Homo sapiens: one gene and its partner. The protein of the gene in region 1 purifies or fractionates together with the protein of each later gene. This does not show direct contact. Each region holds a gene or a part of one and is shown on either strand. Other genes may lie near its edges. The genes, in order: CAPN15 and KCTD7.

Evidence for each region.
Region 2: the proteins of CAPN15 (region 1) and KCTD7 purify together in Homo sapiens (affinity purification with western blotting, with the first as the bait; one study listed by BioGRID). This does not show direct contact.

The regions. Positions count from the first base shown.
Region 1 is NC_000016.10:547,903-551,711, forward strand, and holds part of CAPN15 (calpain-15), read left to right. Parts: coding exon 1-385; intron 386-1,090; coding exon 1,091-1,299; intron 1,300-1,385; coding exon 1,386-1,569; intron 1,570-1,712; coding exon 1,713-1,936; intron 1,937-3,399; coding exon 3,400-3,525; intron 3,526-3,609; coding exon 3,610-3,762; intron 3,763-3,809.
Region 2 is NC_000007.14:66,641,050-66,643,692, forward strand, and holds the end of KCTD7 (BTB/POZ domain-containing protein KCTD7), read left to right. Parts: 3' UTR 1-1,998; downstream 1,999-2,643. UniProt on the Homo sapiens protein: May be involved in the control of excitability of cortical neurons.

The DNA of each region.
Region 1 (3,809 bases):
AGTGGCCCCCAGGTGCTCGGCCTGCGGCTGCTCCAAACTGCACGGCTTCCAGGAGCATGGCGAGCCCCCCACCCACTGCCCCGACTGTGGGGCCGACAAGCCCAGCCCCTGCGGCAGAAGCTGCGGACGGGTGTCCTCGGCCCAGAAGGCCGCCCGCGTCCTGCCCGAGCGCCCGGGCCAGTGGGCCTGCCCTGCCTGTACCCTGCTCAACGCACTGCGGGCCAAGCACTGCGCCGCCTGCCACACGCCTCAGCTCCTGGTGGCCCAGCGGCGGGGGGCCGCGCCCCTGAGGCGCAGGGAGAGCATGCACGTGGAGCAGCGGCGGCAGACAGACGAGGGCGAGGCCAAGGCACTCTGGGAGAACATCGTGGCCTTCTGCCGGGAGGTGAGGCGCCCCCTCGCCCTCTTCCTGCTCCTGAGCCTCCTGCTCCCGCCCTCCCCTTCCTAGGCTTTGGGCTCTGGCGATGGGCTGGGGAGGAGCCCACAAGGCCTAAGACGTGATGGGGAGGGCAGCACCCTCCGCCCCGAGGCTCCAAGCTCCCAATGGCCCTGGGGTCCAGCTTGGCCTCCTGACCCTTGGTCCTTGCTGGTGACCGAGATGCACGACCTTCACCCCCCTCAACCCTCCACCGTGGCCAGGAGGGCCCCGAGCCCCGTCTGATGTGCCGCAGGAGGCGAGGGCTTCCCAGGGGCAGCGTGGAGACCCCGCTGAAGTGCGAGGTCGGGATGTACCCGTGCTCCGCCCTCTAGAGTCCAGGATGGCATCACCCACGGGTCAACTGGGGCGCAGCCTGCACCCTCCCCAGCAGGGCCAGGGCCAGAGTCGTGCTGCCACCCACTGGGGGCTGCGCTGTCCCCCTGGGCCCACACGTCCCCTGCTCCTCACCTGTCGCCAGCCGGTGGCCTCTCCACTAGGGCTGAGGGCTTCCTCGACACAGGGCCGGCGCCAGGTCTGTGGCTGTCCACGCTCCACCCGTCCCTTTGGGGCTCAGGCAGTGCTTTTGGGCGCTCTCCTGGGTGGGGTCTTGTCCCTGCCAGGTGGAGCGAGGCCACCCTGCCCAGCCTGAGCACATGGCCGTGGTCTCTGCAGAACAATGTGAGCTTCGTGGATGACAGCTTCCCTCCCGGGCCCGAGTCTGTCGGCTTCCCCGCGGGTGACAGCGTGCAGCAGCGTGTGAGGCAGTGGCTGCGACCCCAGGAGATCAACTGCTCCGTCTTCAGGGACCACAGGGCCACGTGGTCTGTGTTCCACACACTGCGGCCCTCAGACATCCTGCAGGGGCTGCTGGGGAACTGCTGGTGAGGCCTTCTCCAAGGCCGGGGTGGGGCGGGTGGGCGGGCGACCGGCCGCGGTCCCCGCGAGGTCACCCTGAGGCTCTGCGCAGGTTCCTGAGCGCCCTGGCGGTGCTGGCGGAGCGGCCGGACCTGGTGGAGCGGGTGATGGTCACGCGCAGCCTGTGTGCAGAGGGCGCCTACCAGGTGCGGCTGTGCAAGGACGGCACGTGGACCACGGTGCTGGTGGACGACATGCTGCCCTGTGATGAGGCCGGCTGCCTCCTCTTCTCACAGGTGGGGCGGCCTGCAGGGTGGGCACGGGCGGCAGGGGCAGCCTCTGACCCCAGCCCCGAAAACAAGGCCGGCTGCTTCCTCTTCTCCCAGGGCGGGTAGTGTGGGGGGCGGGCGGGGGTGGCCTCTGACCCGGCCCTCTGCAGGCGCAGCGGAAGCAGCTGTGGGTGGCCCTCATCGAGAAGGCGCTGGCCAAGCTGCACGGCTCCTACTTTGCGCTCCAGGCGGGCCGCGCCATCGAAGGCCTGGCCACGCTCACCGGCGCCCCCTGTGAGAGCCTGGCGCTGCAGCTCAGCTCCACTAACCCCCGCGAGGAGCCCGTTGACACTGACCTCATCTGGGCCAAAATGCTGAGTTCTAAGGAGGCTGGGTAAGAGGAGGGGCACTGCGTGGTCAGCCGCGTTGGGAGGAGAGGCGAGGCGGAGCGGTGGGAGATGTGGGGCTGGTGGCCCCTGACCCAGTTCTGCTTCCACGAGGTGCCCCTGGCGTGGGCTGACCCCGCGTGGCCAGGCCACAGCCCCAATCACCTCCCCCTCCCTGGGCGGGGCTGGAGCTGGCCTTCTCATGCCAGGAAGGCCACATCCTGGCCAGGCCGTGGGGCGAGACCGATGCCGTCACCCCGGAGCAGGTGTGAGCGGCGTGTCGAGTTTGACCTGGGCCGTGGGGCGAGACTGATGCCGTCATCCGCCTCGGGGCAGGCGTGAGCGGCGTGTCGAGTTTGGCCACACTCTGGTCAGCGGGTCTGTGCCTCGACCCCCAGGGGCCTCCTCGGAGTGCCCCGGTGCGAGCACCTTGAAGCTCCCGGAGCCCTCCTCTCAGCTGACCCTGGGCAGTGCTGCTGCCCACCCCCCACCCGCCCGGGAGCCACAGAGCCCAGAGCCAGCCCCACAAGGCCTCCAGGGGACCCAGGCCTGCCACCCCTGACTCAGGCCCTGTGCGCTTCAGGCATGGTGGAGGGGGCTGGTCCAGACCCTCCTGAACACTTCACGTGGTCCCTACAGGCAGGAGTGGGCCCTTCTCTGCTGCGCCTGCCTGTCTTGGTGGCAAGGTCGCGGCCAGCGAGGGCACTGGTCAGCAAGGCCCCGGTCAGTGAGGGCCCCGCTCAGCCATGCCCCCAGTCGGTGAGGGCCCCACTCAGCCATGCCCCTGGTTAGTGAGACCCCCTGTCAGTGAGGGTTCCCTGTCGGTGAGGGTCCCCGGTCGGTGAGGGCCCCCAGTCGGTGAGGGTCCCGGTCGGTGAGGGTCCCCTGTCGGTGAGGGTCCCCGTCGGTGAGGGTCCCGGTCGGTGAGGGTCCCCTGCCGGTGAGGGTCCCGGTCGGTGAGGGTCCCGGTCGGTGAGGGCCCCGGTCGGTGAGGGTGCCCCGTCGGTGATGGCCCCGGTCGGTGAGGGTCCCGGTCGGTGAGGGTCCCCTGTCGGTGAGGTCCCTGGTCGGTGAGGGTCCCGGTCAGTGAGGGTCCCCTTTCGGTGAGGGTCCCCTGTCTGTGAGGGCCCCGGTCGGTGAGGGTCCCCTGTTGGTGAGGGTCCCGGTCGGTGAGGGTCCCCTGTCGGTGAGGGCCCCGGTCGGTGAGGGCCCCGGTCGGTGAGGGTCCCCGGTCGGTGAGGTCCCCGGTCGGTGAGGGCCCCGGTCGGTGAGGGTCCCCGGTCGGTGAGGGCCCCTGTTGGTGAGGGCCCCGGTCGGTGAGGGCGCCCCGTCGGTGAGGGTCCCGGTCGGTGAGGGCCCCGGTCGGTGAGGGTCCCCAGTCGGTGAGGGTCCCGGTCAGTGAGGGTCCCCGGTCGGTGAGGGTCCCCTGTCGGTGAGGGTCCCGGTCGGTGAGGGCCGCTCTGCCACACAGGTTCCTCATGGGTGCCTCCTGTGGCGGGGGCAACATGAAGGTGGACGATTCGGCCTACGAGAGCCTGGGCCTGCGCCCCCGGCATGCCTACTCCATCCTGGATGTCCGAGATGTCCAGGGCACCAGGTAGGGCCGGCCTGGCTGAGGGTGGGTGGGGTGCCGGTGAGACTCGGGCAGTGTGGTTCAGATCCTCACCCCTGTGGTCTGCAGGCTTCTGCGGCTCCGAAACCCGTGGGGCCGTTTCTCCTGGAACGGCAGCTGGTCCGACGAGTGGCCACACTGGCCGGGGCACCTGCGTGGCGAGCTCATGCCGCACGGCAGCAGTGAGGGTGTCTTCTGGATGGAGTACGGCGACTTTGTCAGGTATCGGCACCGTGGGGCGGTGTGCACGCCGCCCCCGCCCTCCTAGG
Region 2 (2,643 bases), on another chromosome or scaffold:
TGCACTCCTGTTGTACTCTTTTAGAGGTGGAAAAGAGGTGGATACTGAGATCTAAGAGGAAAGGATAGTCATTCACGTTCTGAGATATGCGCTCTCTCTATTGTTCTCGTACACAAAGGGATAGTCTCTTTTCTGGAGCTGATGTCCCTGCTTGGAGGTTAGCCCCAAAACATGGCTCTTGTATTGTTCTAAGAGAAAAGGCTTTCATTTTGGTTCTTCTGATTGGTGTTACCTACTGCCTAATATGTGTTCATTTTTTGACAGAGAGGCAGACTATTGAAAAAGTCTGTGTGAACAGAGAGCAGTTCATTAAGCCCATTGCTTTCAGTAATGTGGCCTTGACCCCTTCTGCTTCCCCCTTCTCCCATGGAGCATGGCAGGGCTTGGTTATTTAGAGTCCATACATGCAAGCCATTGAGAGACTTGTTTGCTCAAATGCAAGTTTGCTCAAAAACAGGTCCTGAAGGCTTGCTTAGGATTACAGGGATGCTGGGTAAGAACACCGTTCCTCTCTCTCGCTGGAGAAATCCCTGTTTCTCTGACTCCCTTTGTGATCCTCACAGTAATGTATTCTGTGCCACTGTAGGACACAAGGCTCTGGGCCAGTAGAACAGGCAGAGAGGTGACACTGGGCAGCAAGCTGAGAGCTCTTTCTAAATGGAGTGAAGGAATTCAGTGGCCTAGTTTCGCCATTCTCTAATGAGAAACCAAGGCCAGGCTGAAAAGTGCAATTAGATGTGGTGGATTGTGGTAACGGCCTCCAGATAAAGGGGTTATCCCTGTGGAAGTGACTTTTCCCCATTTGATCCCTTTTCAACTCTAAATGGCCAGGCCCAGAACAGAAGAAGGGTTGGGTCTGGAAGGAAGGCTCCAAAGGATGAAAGCTTCTCCCTGATCATAAGGAAGTGCATCTTTATAGAATTGTTGTGCATAATGTCAGTAAATCCCTCTCACTTGACAAGGGACTGGATTCATCTTGCCTTGAGACGGGCCAGTAGTTATCAGTGAGTCAAAGCAAAGTGAAAGTTTCAGGAGATGGGACCAATGGTGCAATGCTCGCCATAACAAAATTCCTTAAAAATAAAAAAGCTAATGTTATAGCAACAAAAAAAGACTGAAGCAAAACCACACTGAAATGCATCCCACTCCAGGAGAGGAATTCTTAGCGTAACACTCTAAATAAATGGAAGGAATCATCACCTTCCTTATTTTACCTCTGCCTTGTTCACCAGGCTGCCCAGTGCTTACCATGCAGAAAGCAGTCAGCTGTACTCTGGAAGTTTCTGTTCTTCTTTCCTGGGGCTTAGGATATTCTGGGAGCTGTCTGAGCCTTGTGCCTAAGGCTTATCAGGTGATATAATCTTCCTGTTCTGGGCTGCTTGCTGGAGGAATAGGAAGTGACATTTATAAGACACAGGCGGTGTGAGCATCCATGTGTGGTCTTGGTCTAAACCAGCTCTTGAACAGGTTAAAGCAAACAGCAATAACAAAACAAAAACTACTGATGCTGAGCGTTTTGATCCTAGTAATATTTCAAATATTGTCCTTCTGCATATGTTCTATCCATATTTGATTCCAATATACATTATTAAGCTTTCTTGGGTACTATTTTGCTGGGGCTCTTGCGTGAAGGTGGTACCTGTCTCATGATCCTTAAAAGAGAGAGGCTTTTTTCATCCAAAGCTGTAGTGTTGGGAACTGGGGTGGGAGAGGCACTTTTTGGAATTCTGAAAGAATCATATCTGTGTATATACATACTGAGTGGGGAAGGATGGGGGTTGGCAGGGGTTGAGGGAGGTGGGAACAAACAGTGAGTATGGGAACAGGCAGTCACCTCGAGTGTGGGAGGTCACCTGGGTCCGTCGTCTTCCTTCTGTATGGTGTTGGGTTTATGTACACACTATAACACTTCCTGTGTGAGTTCATGTACCTGTCTGTGAGTGCTTTGGTGTATTGAGCCTCAGTACACTCCAAGGGCATTAAAGTCAAGAACTAGAACCTGGGTGCTGTGCCTTTCTTTTTTAGAGATGTGCTCTCATCTCTTCTCTGACCCCCACTTTGCCAGCAAATATTTTTTATTTCTGCTTAAAATGTGGTGTGTTTGGGGATGCCCCACACAACAAGACAGGCTTTTCCCTGAGACCAGCAGCTGAATTTCTGCCCTGAAAGGGAGGTGGGCCTCTTGAGGACCCTTCTAGAGTTACTCTAGACTTGTCCCTGTTTCATGTAGGCATGTGCCCACCCCAGCCTAGGCAAAATCTCTGTCCTCTTCTTTTGGGAGTTCTCCAAGGAAAGAAGAGACTGCAGGTGCAGTCACGTGTGTGGCTCACAACCATGTCAGGTAGTTCTAAAATAAATTCCTCCTGTCATATTACCACTTCCTTTTCAATGGGGGAAATAAGTAGCTCTAAATTTATGTAAGCCTCAGTGGTTAAGACCCTTCCTTAAGAAAAATGGACGTAAGTTGCCCTTCCTTTGAAAGCAGAGCTTGACACCTTCCTGGCTAATGAGTGTCCTCATCAAGATGCCCCCTGGAGTCACATCATGGATTAACGCAGAAAGGTGAGTTCTGAGGCTCTGAGTAGCTTCATACCCTCCAACTGCTTCCCTTAAACCTCTGATTATTCTGGCTTTTAAACAAAA